4 linked regions of the Homo sapiens genome follow. The protein of the gene in region 2 purifies or fractionates together with the protein of the main gene of each other region. This does not show direct contact. Each region holds a gene or a part of one and is shown on either strand. Other genes may lie near its edges.

Evidence for each region. The genes of interacting proteins can lie anywhere in the genome.
Region 1: the proteins of RBSN (region 2) and PCDHA4 purify together in Homo sapiens (affinity purification with mass spectrometry; 2 studies listed by BioGRID and IntAct, with this or other methods). This does not show direct contact.
Region 3: the proteins of RBSN (region 2) and E2F3 purify together in Homo sapiens (pull-down; one large-scale study listed by IntAct). This does not show direct contact.
Region 4: the proteins of RBSN (region 2) and LMX1B purify together in Homo sapiens (affinity purification with mass spectrometry; 2 studies listed by BioGRID and IntAct, with this or other methods). This does not show direct contact.

What each region holds. Positions count from the first base shown.
Region 1 is NC_000005.10:140,978,068-140,981,567, reverse strand, and holds part of PCDHA4 (protocadherin alpha-4 isoform 1 precursor), read right to left. Parts: intron 2,620-3,500; coding exon 2,561-2,619; intron 1-2,560. Other genes in the region: PCDHAC2 (protocadherin alpha-C2 isoform 1 precursor), read right to left, coding at 2,561-2,619; PCDHAC1 (protocadherin alpha-C1 isoform 1 precursor), read right to left, coding at 2,561-2,619; PCDHA13 (protocadherin alpha-13 isoform 1 precursor), read right to left, coding at 2,561-2,619; PCDHA12 (protocadherin alpha-12 isoform 1 precursor), read right to left, coding at 2,561-2,619; PCDHA11 (protocadherin alpha-11 isoform 1 precursor), read right to left, coding at 2,561-2,619; PCDHA10 (protocadherin alpha-10 isoform 1 precursor), read right to left, coding at 2,561-2,619; PCDHA9 (protocadherin alpha-9 isoform 1 precursor), read right to left, coding at 2,561-2,619; PCDHA8 (protocadherin alpha-8 isoform 1 precursor), read right to left, coding at 2,561-2,619; PCDHA7 (protocadherin alpha-7 isoform 1 precursor), read right to left, coding at 2,561-2,619; PCDHA6 (protocadherin alpha-6 isoform 1 precursor), read right to left, coding at 2,561-2,619; and 4 more. UniProt on the Homo sapiens protein: Calcium-dependent cell-adhesion protein involved in cells self-recognition and non-self discrimination. Thereby, it is involved in the establishment and maintenance of specific neuronal connections in the brain.
Region 2 is NC_000003.12:15,069,573-15,072,360, forward strand, and holds the end of RBSN (rabenosyn-5), read right to left. Parts: 3' UTR 501-2,788; downstream 1-500. UniProt on the Homo sapiens protein: Rab4/Rab5 effector protein acting in early endocytic membrane fusion and membrane trafficking of recycling endosomes. Required for endosome fusion either homotypically or with clathrin coated vesicles.
Region 3 is NC_000006.12:20,481,879-20,485,378, forward strand, and holds part of E2F3 (transcription factor E2F3), read left to right. Parts: intron 1-883; coding exon 884-1,042; coding exon of another isoform or gene 1,043-1,071; intron 1,072-3,500.
Region 4 is NC_000009.12:126,612,705-126,616,727, reverse strand, and holds the start of LMX1B (LIM homeobox transcription factor 1-beta), read right to left. Parts: upstream 2,801-4,023; 5' UTR 2,279-2,800; coding exon 2,140-2,278; intron 1,346-2,139; coding exon 1,159-1,345; intron 1-1,158. UniProt on the Homo sapiens protein: Transcription factor involved in the regulation of podocyte-expressed genes. Essential for the specification of dorsal limb fate at both the zeugopodal and autopodal levels.

The DNA of each region.
Region 1 (3,500 bases), on a different chromosome or scaffold from region 2:
AAGCCTCACTCTGTCACTCAGGCTGGAGTACAGTGGCACGATCTCAGCTCACTGCAACCTCTGCCTCCCAGGTTCAAGCAATTCTCCTGCCTCAGCCTCCCAAGTAGCTGGGACTACAGGCACCCGCCACCATGCCTGGCTCATTTTTGTATTTTTAGTAGAGACAGGTTTTCACCATATTGACCAGGCTGGTCTTGAACTCCTGACCTCAAGTGATCCACCTGCCTCACCCTCCCAAAGTGCTGGGATTACAGGCATGAGCCACTACACCTAGACTAGAGGACCCTTTTAAACTAGACATTTGCTTATCTTGAAAGTTAAATTTCTAAAATAAAATTTAGACTACTGACTAAAGGGGTTATATGAGGCAACAGAGCAGGCAAACTTGAACTATTAGAGGGAAGGCAACATATAAGTTCAATGTTTTCTCACTCTTTGACTTCAAACAACATATCCAGTAGAAATTCACTCATTAAACTCTGACCTTTTACTATTCTTCCCCTTGTCTACACTCTAGAATTATCTGTTTTTTTTCCCCAAATATTAACAGCCTTCAAGTGTTCCTGGATCCTACTAGCAAATTGTGTGGGCTCAGTCAGATTCATGAAGGTGTAACTATCCTGGAGCCAGCTCAGCTCAAAGCAGAATTTTTTAAAGAATAGTTACATGATGTCCAAGACTGGAAAGACCGAGAACACCCAAGCACACATACGAAAAAGATTAGTATTATTTAGGTTCACAACTCATTTAATATGTTCAATGTATTACAATGCAAAAAAGAAATGGCATTTTAATTTCAATTTTTATTTTATTTCTTACCCTACTCAAATCTCATAATATCTTAATTGAAACCCGAATAGGAGCACATTTGGCTTTTTTTTTTCAATTTGAAAATGGGATAAGGAAGTTATGTTATTTTATTCATTTATTTATTCTTCTGAGACAGAGTCTCGCACTGTCGCCAGGCTGGAGTGCAGTGGCTCGATCTTGGCTCACTGCAACTTCCGCCTCCCGGGTTCAAGCGATTCTCCTGCCTCAGCCTCCCTAGTAGCTGGAACTACAGGCACATGCCATCACGCCCAGCTAATTTTTGTATTTTTAGTAGAGACAGGGTTTCACCGTGTTGTCCAGGATGGTCTCGATCTCTTGACCTCATGATCTGCCCACCTCGGCCTCCCAAAGTGCTGGGATTACAGGTGTGAGCCACCGCGCCCAGTCCAGGAAGTTATGTTTTAATGTTTTATTTCAAATGTAGTTTTTAAGGCACAACTCATAGCTTTGGTACTTTTCAAGAGTTGGTACTGTAAACCATGCTTTTACCCATTGCATGTCTCCACCAACAGCTCAGATGCAGGCAAAAGCACAAGTTGGTCTCTAATAAATATAAAGAATTTCTTCTGATACCTAATATTCTGGTATATGCATGAATGTTTCTGGCCTAAAATTATGACCCAGGTTCCAATGTGACATCTTACCAAGCCAACTACTAATCTTCAGCCCTTCACTGATTGCTTCTGAATCAGAAATAGCACCCAATGTAATGATTTCTGCTCATTTGTAATGCTTGAGAGTATGTTAATTTATTTCAATCTAATGCATTTTAATGGGCTAAAACTAATTTCACATTAACTCTACACATACTTTGTAGGCTTTCTCTTTACGAACTGATCTAAGTTTGGTGAATATTCACTTGATAGTTGCCCAGATATTTTGAGGGGCTTAAGTTTGAAGATTATTTCTTCTTTAAAATTAAATCCTTTTGATAGTTGTGATCATTTGTTTCTTGGTCCTTCCCATTTGGTTTCCAAAGACATTCGCAAATAATGAATCTTTTATTTGGCCCCATGGCATGGATACTGGATCACCTCCAGAAATAATGGTAGTTAATCAATTACTGTCAGAGAGACAAAGTAGAGAAAGCAAAATTATATTTAATCTGAGTCTTAGACTAATACCGTTACTCTAGGTTAATTTAAAGTAAGCTAGATTTGGAGCCCTTTACATGGCTCATCTTCTGAAGAACCATGTCATTGATGACAATAAGATAGCAACAGATGGGAAAGATGAGGAGGCTCTAATAGGTGTGAACACAAACAACAATAGCAATCAATTATTGAGGGTAATAGGATGTAATAGCCAATGTGAGATTAAAAAAAAAACAAGGTAGACAACATGTATGTATACATTGCACAATGTACCCAAGTCTCAAAGCATGAGTATTAATTACAGTTTTTAAAGGAGGAAAAGAAAGCATAGGTAGAGAGGGATGAAGGAGGTTGAAATTACTTCCCTGTAGAAATTTTGATGGGAGAAAATACATAGCAGCCTGTTTCTGTGATTTTACAGAGGACTCTTATATGCCAGCACTTGATAAGCATCTGGCACTGACCATTTGCGATCTTTCAAGGAATAAACATGGGGACAAAATAATTGCATTTTCCTGGCAAAGTACCTAAAGCTTTTTAGTTTTGACAGCTGCTTCTGGCCTATGGAGATGCAGTTTATCTGAGCCATACCAAGTTAAGGTTACTTCTGAGTGAATGAGGAGGGAAATACATACCTGTGCATGCCTGCTCTCAGGGAGGCAGAGTAACGCCAGTCAGGGTTGGGCTGTCGTGGCTGCAAAATCACAAAGAGAGTTTTCTGTTAAAATGACAAGACAATGTTCTCCCAGGAATGCTGCTAATTGATTAGTTACTCCCTTAAATATTTCCAGGCATCTAAAAAAGTATTGAATGAGCCATTTCATGTGTAACTCTATGATGATATCTACATATATAGCACTTTAGAAGAAAATTAGTTCATCAGGGTCCTCACACAGATTAGATACCCTGGAAGACCAGATTTAATAATCTTGTAAAGGCCACCTTTGGCTTTGCCTTGCCCAATACATGTCTGTGTTCTTAAAACACTACGGGAAGAACAGTCTGCTTTGAGAAAGGAAAAGCTTTCACTGCTTTTGCCCTCAAGTGCCCCATTAAGGGAACATTCCCAATTCAGTATTACAGCTATAACAGGGCACATGGCTACACAAGTTCTGCTGGCCTGGCTGGACTGCAGAGGACTGCAATCTGCTGCTGGCTTTGCAGACTGCAGCATATTTGACCCAGGGCGGATGTGCCCAGTCATAACACCAGCAACTGATAACAGTCTCTTTTCTGATTGAAGAGGGATACTAGGGAGAGGAAAACAAACTATTGCAGAGTTTGACCTTGTTTTGCTAGCTAATCCTTTTCATAAACTTGTACTTGTTCCTGCTCCTTCCTGAGTGCTTTCCCTCCTCACTGAATCACTGTTCACTAAGCTCTGATTGTTTAACAGGGAGTAGCTGAAATCCAAGAAAAACCTGATACATTTTGCATTAGTTGTGTATTGAAAAGATCTGTTGCCCTCTCTCTACAAACTCTCAGTCTGAAGGGGGAGAACAAAGAGGAAAATATGGGCACCTAAAGACTTAAAGACTGTTGGGGGAGTTATGTGCTGGTTAGAAGCTACTCAGA
Region 2 (2,788 bases):
CTCATTCCACCACTGACTGGCTGTGTGGCCTAAGCCAGGCTAATCTCTCTTAACTTTTCTACGTCTGGGGTCAGATGAACAGCTGAGTAACTACCTCACAGGCATGCTGGTAGTGCTAATGGAGGGAAATGTGGTCATGCAGAGGTGGTGACTGGCACAGATGGCAGTCACAAGGTTCCTCAATCTCTGAGCCTCAGTTTCTTCCAGTGTGAAACTGGGATGATAGGATCATTAAGGGATCTGCACTATACTTCTGTAAAACTGTTCATTTAACCAGCACTGCAGGAATAACTGGGAATAAGGGCAGAACTGGAACCCGTATCTATCCCCTGTTCAGAACCCAGTGACCTTCATTTTTTCCAGAGGCCTTAACCAGACAAACAACACAGGTGCTGGAACTATTCTGATACTCAGATGGTTGTCATCAAGAAAGGAGAAGGGATGTCATCTGATGATTCTCACTTGTAACACATGTGCACACAGACACACACACCCCCAACCTCTATCTCAGATTTTATTTTTTTTAAAAAAGGCTCCAATACAAGGCCCCAGAGTAGTGCATGCAAATCAACGACCCTCAAAGTGACAGTCATTGTCAGATAACAAGCACAATCTGCTACAGTCTGTGACCTGGTAAAGAGACCACCTTTTCATTTTGAGTCCCATCACCAACTATGCCAATGTCCAACCTACCACACAGCTCACAATGACTCAGAGGTACATTTTAGTATCTGAACAGCAAAGACATATTGAGCTGCAAGTACAATGAGTAAGTATCCTTAGTGTATTAGACAGGGTAAATACAAACAAGGCATAAAAGGGAAAAGCCAACTTCATCTGATGCCTGAATCCCTAAGTCTCTTCCATCTTTTCTCATGATCTGTGTCTAGGGAGATCTGCTATGCCATATCAAGACCTTGCTCATCTGGTGATGAGACGGGGCTGTTTGCCTTGGAAGACTAAAGAAAGGGTGAATATTCACATGAGGTAAGAACTTGAAGTTGTGGTTATAATACATAGGCCAAGTTTGCCTGCTGTCAACCCATCTCTGTAACTCCAACTTTGTGCCTGCATGAATTCTGCGACATGGTACAGCTGATGGGTAGAGAATTCTAACTCCTGTGATGTATTTACAGGAGAAGATAATCGTGGAAGAATTAAATGGAAGAATTCATAGAAGAATACAGCCATGGATAAACTTAATCAAAAGAATATGATTTTAGTTTGGTTTAGTATATTCAATCAGTCAGTTTTGTTTGTTTTTTGTGAGACGGAGTCTTGCTCTTGTCACCCAGGTTGGAGTGCAGTGGCGCAATCTTGGCTCACTGCAACCTCCGCCTCCCAGGTTCAAGCGATTCTCGTGCCTCAGCCTCCCTGAGTAGCTGGGATTACAGGCGTCTGCCACCACGCCCAGCTAATTTTTGTATTTTTAGTAGACACGGGGTTTCACCATGTTGGCCATGCTAGTCTCAAATTCCTGACCTCAGGTGATCCACCCGTCTCGGCCTCCCAAAGTGCTGGGATTACAGGAGTGAGCCACTGCACCCGGCCAGGCCTTTAAAAATAGTTTTTAAAAATGTTTCTTGTGTGTTTTTCAATGCTTTTAGTTACTTACAGATTGCTACCTGAGGTGATTTGAGGGAAGGGTATGTTTAGTGAATTAGTCTTAATCAAAATCACTAGCTAATTAAAAGAGAAATGTTCTCACAAGAAAAATAATTATGATGGAAAGCAGCAATTAGCTTCTGGAACTACCTGCTTTTCAGTTCATCCTCTTTTCAGAGAAATGAGACCCTAAGCAGGGAGGAGCCTACTGGCCATCTGAGAAACCCTCTAGAGTAACAGAGAAATGTCATGGGCCTCAGGGAAGAAAAGAGGCCTGTACCAGGCAACATCTTAGATGCCTGGTTGCCAACTTCTCAAAACAACCCATAACAACCAGCAGGGTTGGTAACTGGCTGACATTCATTAACACACTCATATGGCTGTTTGTGAACAGATCCCAAATGCAAAGCGTCCTTCACACACTTCTACCCACTCCCCATCTCCACACCCCTATACAAGATCTTTTCATTCAACCAAAAGGATAAGAAATGTGCTACAGAAATGTGAACATCAACACAAATACAGATTATTTTTTCATCAAGAGAGTTAAAACATTCCCATTATCAAGAGGGGTCTTCACCAGAATGTAACAAAATGAATTTCAGCTTTCACACCAGTAACCAGTGAAAGTATGGCCTAGAGCTAGTTACACGGCATAAAGTGACTAGTGGTCAGTTATTGTTCATTAGTTCAGATGAGTAACTGCAGAAACTCTACCCAGAGCTGAGCACATATGGCTATCATGATGTCAGATGTCAGTTAAGAGTTATGTTCCTGTAAACCAAAGCACCAGAGCTAAATTAACAATTTCCCTTTCTGGCCTTAATTGACCAACAGTTTAAGTACTGTGGTGCTACCAGCACGATCCTGGGTTGTGCTTCTTCAAACATTTCAGTTTCTCAATACTAACATTGGTAATAAAATATCTCATCAGGGCGGGCACAGTGGCTCACGCCTGTATTCCCAGCACTTTGGGAGGCCAAGGTGGCAGATCACTTGAGGCCAGGAGTTCGAAACCAGCCTGGCCAAAATGGTGAAACTCTACCTCTACTAAAAATACAGAGATTAACCAGGCGTGGTGGCCCACGCCTGTAATCCTAGCTATTCAGGGGGCTGAGGCACAAATATCACTTGAACCAGGGAGGTGGAGGTTGCAGTGAGCTGAGATCATGCCACTACACTC
Region 3 (3,500 bases), on a different chromosome or scaffold from region 2:
ATAGCAGATTAACTCACTTTCTGGGTAAATTAAGGCAAGACTTAAATGCCTCCATTTCGTCTGTAGAGCAGGGATGGTAGCATGATACTTATACAGCCACACGTATGATTACATATGTAATATATTTTGTGAATTTTAGAGCATCTAAATAGCCACTATAAGCACAGTATTGAATTATTAAAGCATTTTGGAAGGAATAATTCTGTTACAGGAGGGCTTTGAAAAGATACTAATTCAGATGGAAGATGAATACATACCTTTTTTTGCACATTTTGGAATTTTGTTGACAGTTTGGTAACCCGTTTTGGCCTCTGGTTTAGAGAAACATATTGTGCACTAGTCTCAGTTCTTGCATACATCACATACATCTGTTTCCTTTACTTTCTTTTCTTTTTAGTTGTTGATATAAGACCCTCAGTAATTACCTGAGTTTTTGATGCTTTTTTGGATGGGTTGTTTTTTTGTTTTTTTTTTTTTTTAATTTTGAACCATTCCATCTTCTCTGTCTTTCTCTATCTTTTTATCCTTTTTCGCCTTTCTTCCCCCACCACCTGGGAGCCATGAGGCAAGGGAGGAAGGTGGTTGCCTTCTTTTGCCCTCTGAATTTGAACCTTCTGAAGAAGTAGACCTCCCCTGGAGGAAAGAATCCTGAAAATAGCAGTGCGCTTTCACTAAATTTCTATGCTGTGAAAAGTGCAGAACTGTATTTATGAAAAAAAAAATATATATATATATATATATATGTGTAAATGTTCTAATTTTAACACTTGGCTAACAAGCAATGTGACCTCCTATGTCAAGAGGAGACATTTACCCAAAGGATCATTTCTCCTTCCCCTCCCTCCCATGAGTAGCCATGAAGAGTCTGTGTTTGGGTTTCTAGGGGCTGCAGTCTGTCTGAGGATGGGGGCATGCTGGCCCAGTGTCAAGGCCTGTCAAAAGAAGTGACCGAGCTCAGTCAGGAAGAGAAGAAATTAGATGAACTGATCCAAAGCTGCACCCTGGACCTCAAACTGTTAACCGAGGATTCAGAGAATCAAAGATATCCTTTGTGCCGCCAGTTCTCTGGGGGTTAGTGCTTCCTAGACTATTTCCAGAGTTGACAATCTGACTTATGCACAAGGTAGATTATTATTCTGATGTCATGCAAATGAGTACCTGTGTGCCTGTGTGTGTATGTGTGTGTGTGTGCACGTGTGTGTGTAAACCCAGTTAGCTTTGCCTAAAAAGTCAGTATTTATGGTAAGATAGTCACCAACTCGATCCTATTATTATCTATTTTGATACCAGGTGGGAACTGTTTTTTAAAGCATTTTTTCATGTGTGGTTGAGACATGGGTATACTCGTAGCGTAAGGCCACACTATTAAAAGATACATAAGGTGTCGGTATTAATATTAATGACAACACTAAGCAGATTCGTCTTTGGCTTCCCAGATTTTTGGTGGGTGTTAGCTGTCACTGTTGGGGTTCTCACATTCTATTTTCTTCTCACCAGATATCGTAGCAATTGAAATTGGTTGAATCTATCTGATTGGGCTATAGTTGAAGGGTTTGAAAGAGTAGAGAAAAATCATACTATAACTCTTAAAGTGCATTCTGCTGATTCCCAATGAAAAAACTGATTTCAAAAGCACCCCAAGACCTGAGAAACCCCTCTCAATTCCTCTGTTCCACTACAAACATTAGTCCTCGCAAATAAAAATACAAAAGGTCAGTTCTTGTTCTCAACTTCCTGACAATCTATTGACGATCTCAGGAAAACTTGCTCTTCATCATCTCACTACAGACAAAGTAAGAGAGAGATTGCCTCATTATGTCAAACAAGACTTGCCAATATTCTCAGTTATTAGAAGACAAAAAACAGTACTGTAAGTTATCCCATCTCTAGTTTTAGTTCCAAACTTCTGATGATTGCACATTTACCATTATTTGACAAAAACTAAAAAGTGTTCTGCCCAGATTCTTCTAGTGTCTCATCTTTAACAGGCTCCCCCTTGGAGAATATGGAGATATTTATTTTCTTCCAATGTTGGCAGTTTTTCAAACCTGCAATTGTTCATTTCCTGTTGACCAAAGAATTAACCTTGTCAGCCGATAATTAGTGAGATGGAAGAGAGGCGTAGTGATTTGGACCCCCAGTGGTTGGCAGAGTGGGTTTACAGGGGAAGAAACCAACAGTTGGGCTGTTTCATTCATTGTTTGGTTGGGAGCCCCATTGTGGAAGAGATGGGTGGTTACATGTGATTGGCAGCCTTCCGGGACATGTGGCTTATGGCATTGTCACCTATATTAGCTCTCTCTGGGGCCTTTGTTGCAGAAAATGAAAGCTTCCTTGCAGGGAACTTCGAACCCAAGGAGTAAATTCAGGAGGGAGCCACAAAGGAAGCACTTTTAAGTTTGTAAGATTAGAAAATACATTTGCACAATTTATTTCAGTTCACCATTCAGTTCCCAAATTGGTACAGCTTGTTCACAAATGTGTTGAAATTTTCCTTCCTGCAGCATGTTGAGTAATCGTAGATGAGTTTTTCTTTTACACTTGATCTTAGCCAAAAGGCCAAGAAGTGATGAGTTTTTATTTTAATAAGTTCTTGTCATACAGCTTTTTGACAGTGAGCTGTAGTGTAAGTACCTGGTTGTCAGTTTTTTCCAGTGTTCTCAGTAAAAAATCAGAACTGCCTGGCCCTCTATAAAGGCATCCGTTGACTTCTTTGATGGGTTATGTAGTGACCTAAAACCCAGAATCCTGCAAGAGCAGCCACTACAAGCTCAACACTGAATTAGCCATCATCTCAACTGTAAAGATTTGAAGGAGATAGTCTGTGATAGATCCCCTACATGTGTATGCAGATTTCGTGTGAATGTGCTTTCTTTCTGGAGTAGTAGTTCCATAGCTGCATTCAGTTTCTAATAAGAAGCTACTACAGCCAGGCACGGTGGCTCATGCCTGTAATCCCAGCTACTCGGGAGGCTGAGGCAGGAGAATCACTTGAACCTGGGAGACAGAGGTGGCAGTGAGCTGAAATCGTGCCACTGCACTCCAGCCTTAGTGACAGAGTGGGAGTCCGTCTCAAAAAAAAAAAAAAAAAGAAGCTACTATCGTAAGGGACATGATTTATTCTAGGGTCTCTAAGCCCCCCCTTTTTTTTATATTAAACATATTAGATCACGGACTCTATTAGCCATTAAATACGTTATACTACCTGCTGAAATGCCTTCATTGGTTTGTTACTTGCTGTTTTATCCTAGGAATTTTTTGTGGGTACATATAAAAAATAATAACGGGCTAAAGACATTGTACATTAATTGAATACTTTTGTCATATCGTAAGTACCATATTCTTTCATGATAGCCTTTTAGGCTTGGCTGTCAGGACATTTAAAAGAATGGTTCAGTGCTTAGAAAAAATGACCAAGGCCGGGCGCCGTGGCTCACACCTGTAATCCCAGCACTTTGGGAGGCCGGAGGCAGGCAGATCACTTGAGTCCAGGAGTTCAA
Region 4 (4,023 bases), on a different chromosome or scaffold from region 2:
GGCAGAACAGGTAGGTTGCACTCACCACGAGGCGCCGGCAGCCCAGCTTTTCCTTCCCTGGAGGCTTGGGCATACACAGCCCTCTCTGAGCACCAAACCACCTAAGCAGCCTACCCGCTCTGCAGCCTCATCCAGGACGGTTTTCTGGCATCACTAAAGTTTTCGCAGGCACCCGCTGTGTCTGCAACAGAGCTTTGGGGATCTCCACACCCCTCTTTCAGTTGTGGCTCCTCACTGCCTCCCTCCCAATTGCAGTGCCAGGCAGAAAACCCAGGAGGTCAAAAGAAAAAGCCTGCATGTCCTGTTGTCTGTCCCCAACCCCGGCCATACAAATCCAGTCTCAGCTAAAAACTAGTTAGCAAGAAGGGCTCAACCCACATCTCTGGCCTCAGCCCTGAGGTTTGGGTTATACCAGGGCAGAGCGGGCCATCTCCCTCCTCAATACACACTACCAGAAAGGAGGCCTTGTGGGAAGGGCTGACTCAGTCAGCTCCTCACTCCCATTGGGAGCCCCAAATTGTAACTTGCCACCTTTTGAGATCCTCTTCCTAGAGTGCTTCTCCAACCAAAGAAAACTGCAAGTGCAAAATTCCCGCATGGAACGGTTTGGGGAATATGGACATTCTTTTCTCTCCATCAGGGACTAAAAGTGCAGCAGTGAGCCTGGCAGAAAGGGGGCCTCCCTTGCCGCTCAGGCCGTTCAGTGTCCCAGCACTCCACCTCCTGGCTCCTGGCTCCAGGCTCCAGGAATCCCAAACCCCCACACACCAGGCCCTTGAAGCAGTCCGCCAGGCCTGGCTCCCTAAAACATTATTTTCCTTTGGAAATCAATTTTGGGTTCCCAATTCAGGCCTCCGTAGCGCCAGACCCTATATCCCAGGACCCAGGCACCAAATCCCTCGGCCGGCCCAGCGCAGGATTCCGGGACAACGGATGGCAACTGGGGGCCGTCCGGAGGCTCCCAGGACCCCATCAGTGCCCGCTGGGCTGGGCTGGTCCGCCCCAGCCCCAAGACGCGCAGCTCTCGGAACCCTTGGAGCTGCCCGGCCCAGCCGCGCACAGAGCCGGCGGCAGAGCGGGCGCGGGCCGGGCCCGGCAGGGGGCTGACCGGGCTCGAGTGCCGGGCGGTGGCGGGGAAGGAGGACGAGAAGCGCTTACTGTTGGTAGTCTTGTTTGCAGTACAGTTTCCGATCCCGGAAGTAGCAGCTGGTGGTGAGGGCTTGCTGACACGCCGCGCACTGCAAACACTCCTCGTGCCAGGACGACTCGTTGACTCGCATCAGGAAGCGGTCGGAGATGGGCCGCTGGCAGCCCTCGCAGACGGCGGGATGCGGGCAGTCGGAGCCTGTAGCGCACAGGGCGAAAGCCCGGCCGTCAGCGCCGCCCGGCCCAGCCCCGGCGTCCCGGTCGCACCGGGCCCACAGCCCTCGGCCCCGAGGGCTCGGGCCGCCCGGGATCACCGCCTGCCGCCTGCGCTCCCCGGACCGCCGCGCCAGGGGCCGGGCGGCCCCGGCTAGTCCGTCCCAGTCCTCGGGCTCCGGCGTGGAGAGGCCGCGGGCCTCGAGCCTTGGCTCGGCGCTGTGCTCTCCCCTTCTCCGGAGAATCCGCGCTCCGTGTTAAGACAAATGACAACGAGCACGGCGCAGGGTGGCCGGCTGGGACCAAGACAGGCGAGGTGAGGCTGGGGCGCTCGCTGGCTGACACGCCCCACGGTGGCGTTCGTGGTCTTCTATCCCCGATCTCCCCAAAATCTGTGGTTTGAGTGACCAGGGAGACGTTTTTCTCTTAGAATCTCCCCCACCCCAGGTGACCTTGCGCCTCTCCCAAGCTCGCCAAGGTGATTGCTAGGTCCTCCATCACCCCTGCCACCCGCCACCTACCACATCGGAGTGGCAGCTCTAGAACCTAAGCCTGGAAAGGATGGTGGGTGGCGACTGGAGCTGTCCTGTCCCCTCAGGACGCCTGCCGGAGGCGTACTTGCGGCCCTCTGGCGATCACTCCAGGAGTCCTGTCTCTGCCTCCTCCCCATGTCCTGCAAACCCATTTCCTTTATCCGTTGGCCCCAACGCCCGTGTCCACAGCCGGACGACGCCCCATCCCACGCCCGAGACCACTCGGGCGTTCCGACCCCGCACTCACCCAGCAGCACCCCCAGAGTGGCGGGCCCGGGGCGCAGGGCGTGCTCCTCCATCTTGATGCCGTCCAACATCTTGGCGCAGTCCGTCTGCCCGCGAGGGAAGCACCTCTCCAGCGACTCGGGACCTGTTGCTATATCCATGGGACGCGGGGCGCGCTGCGGACCCCGCCGGCCGGGCTGCTCGCCCGCCGGCCCGTCCACCCGCTCTCCGCCGCCGCGGCCCTGGAACCGGGGAGGCGCGGCCCCCGCAGGGCAGGGGTTGCGCCGGCCCCCGGCGATCGTGGAGCGGCGACGCGCTGGCCCCGGGCCCCGGCGTCGTGCGGGCGGGCCGGGGCGGCTGCAGCCCGCGCCGCGCTCTCCCGGACACTTGCAGCCACGCGCGCCGGCTCCTCTGTCACCTGCTTGTCAGTCCCGGAACCCGGCGGCGGCGGCTGCTGCAGACGGAGCCGCGGGGAGGAGGCGGCGGCGGCGGTGGCGGTGGCGGCGGCGGCAGGCGGGGGAGGGGGTGGGGGTGCAGGGGCGGCCCCGCGGGCCGCGGGGGGGGCGCGCGGCGCAGCGGGGTCCCGGGCGGGGCGCAGCGGGCCGCGGGGCTCCGGGCGCGCTCCCCGCGCTACTCCAGTGCCATGGTGCGCCCGCTGAGCCGCCGGGTTTAGAGCTGGGGCTGGCGGCGGAGGGATACGGGCCGCCTCACCTCCCGAAACTTCCTGACATTTGAACCCCGCGGCCGGTATCCCTGCGCCGGGATGCGCCGCCGGCTCCACGTCAAATAGTGCCGTCCCGCCCCCCCGCGCGCCCCGGGGCTCCGCGCCCCTGGCCCGCGCCCCGCGCCGCGCCTGGCCCCGAGCTCAGGCCCCGGCTCCCCGGCCCGGCCGCCCCGCGGGCCCCTCGCAGAAGTTTTGATCGTCTTCGAAACAAATCCCTCTGCTCCACCCCCTTGAAAAATTGATTTGGGAGTTGGGGAGCGAAGGCTTTCTTTTTTCTCCTCTGCCTTCTTTATTATTAATATTTTGTAAAGCTCCAGCGCTACGAGGAGTGGCCCCGAGCGAGGCCAGACTGCGCGGACGGCAGGGAGCGCGGCGGCTCCGCCAGGGGACGGCGCCGGCCGGGAGTGGCCGCTTGGGAACCCCCGACTGTCGGCCGAGGTAGGTCGCGGGGGCTGAGTCGGAGTCCCCCGGGCGGCGGCGCCTGCTCGGGGCCGCTTGGTCCGCGGAGAGGGCCGGCTCCCAGGAACGAAGGACGGGGGCGGGCAGAAGGCGAGGACGGCTGGCCCTGGACTCGTGCAAGGGGGGCCCAGGCCCAGGAACGGGGAGTGAGCCTGGAGTGTGGGTGAGGGGTCTGGGAAAGCTCCGGGCCTGGCAGAGATTGGGCGGGGGACTGAGCCGATGGGAGGTTGGGGCCCCGGGATCGAGAATGGGGGACACTGGGACGACAAGGAAGGTCAGGCCTGGGTTCAGGCGACCGAGAGTTTAGAGGACAACTAAGGCTGGAAAAGGGGTCCCCGGGCAGGGGCAGGAGCAGTGGGCAAGACCCGGGCCTCCTAGGGTTTGCAGTGAGGGGCGCTAGGAGGGAGTGGTGGCCCCAGGGTAGCGGCTCTGAAGAAATTAGGTTGGCTGCCAAGATCGGGGTCCTTTGGCGGGTCGGGTGCCCGGCCAGGGGTCGCTGGGACGCGCGGATCAAGGACAGTGCTCTAGCCAGCCTGGGCAAAGTGGACCTCGGCAACGGGACGCGAAAGCTGGCGAGATGGAGCTGCCGACTTCCGCGCCAGCCGGGCCTGGCACCCGCGTCCGGTGCGAGAGGCCACAGCGTCGGACCGGCTGTCTGCGGCCCGTGGTCCCCACCGACGCGCGGCTCACCGGGGAGCAGGGGGGCGGTTGCGGCCCGGGGTA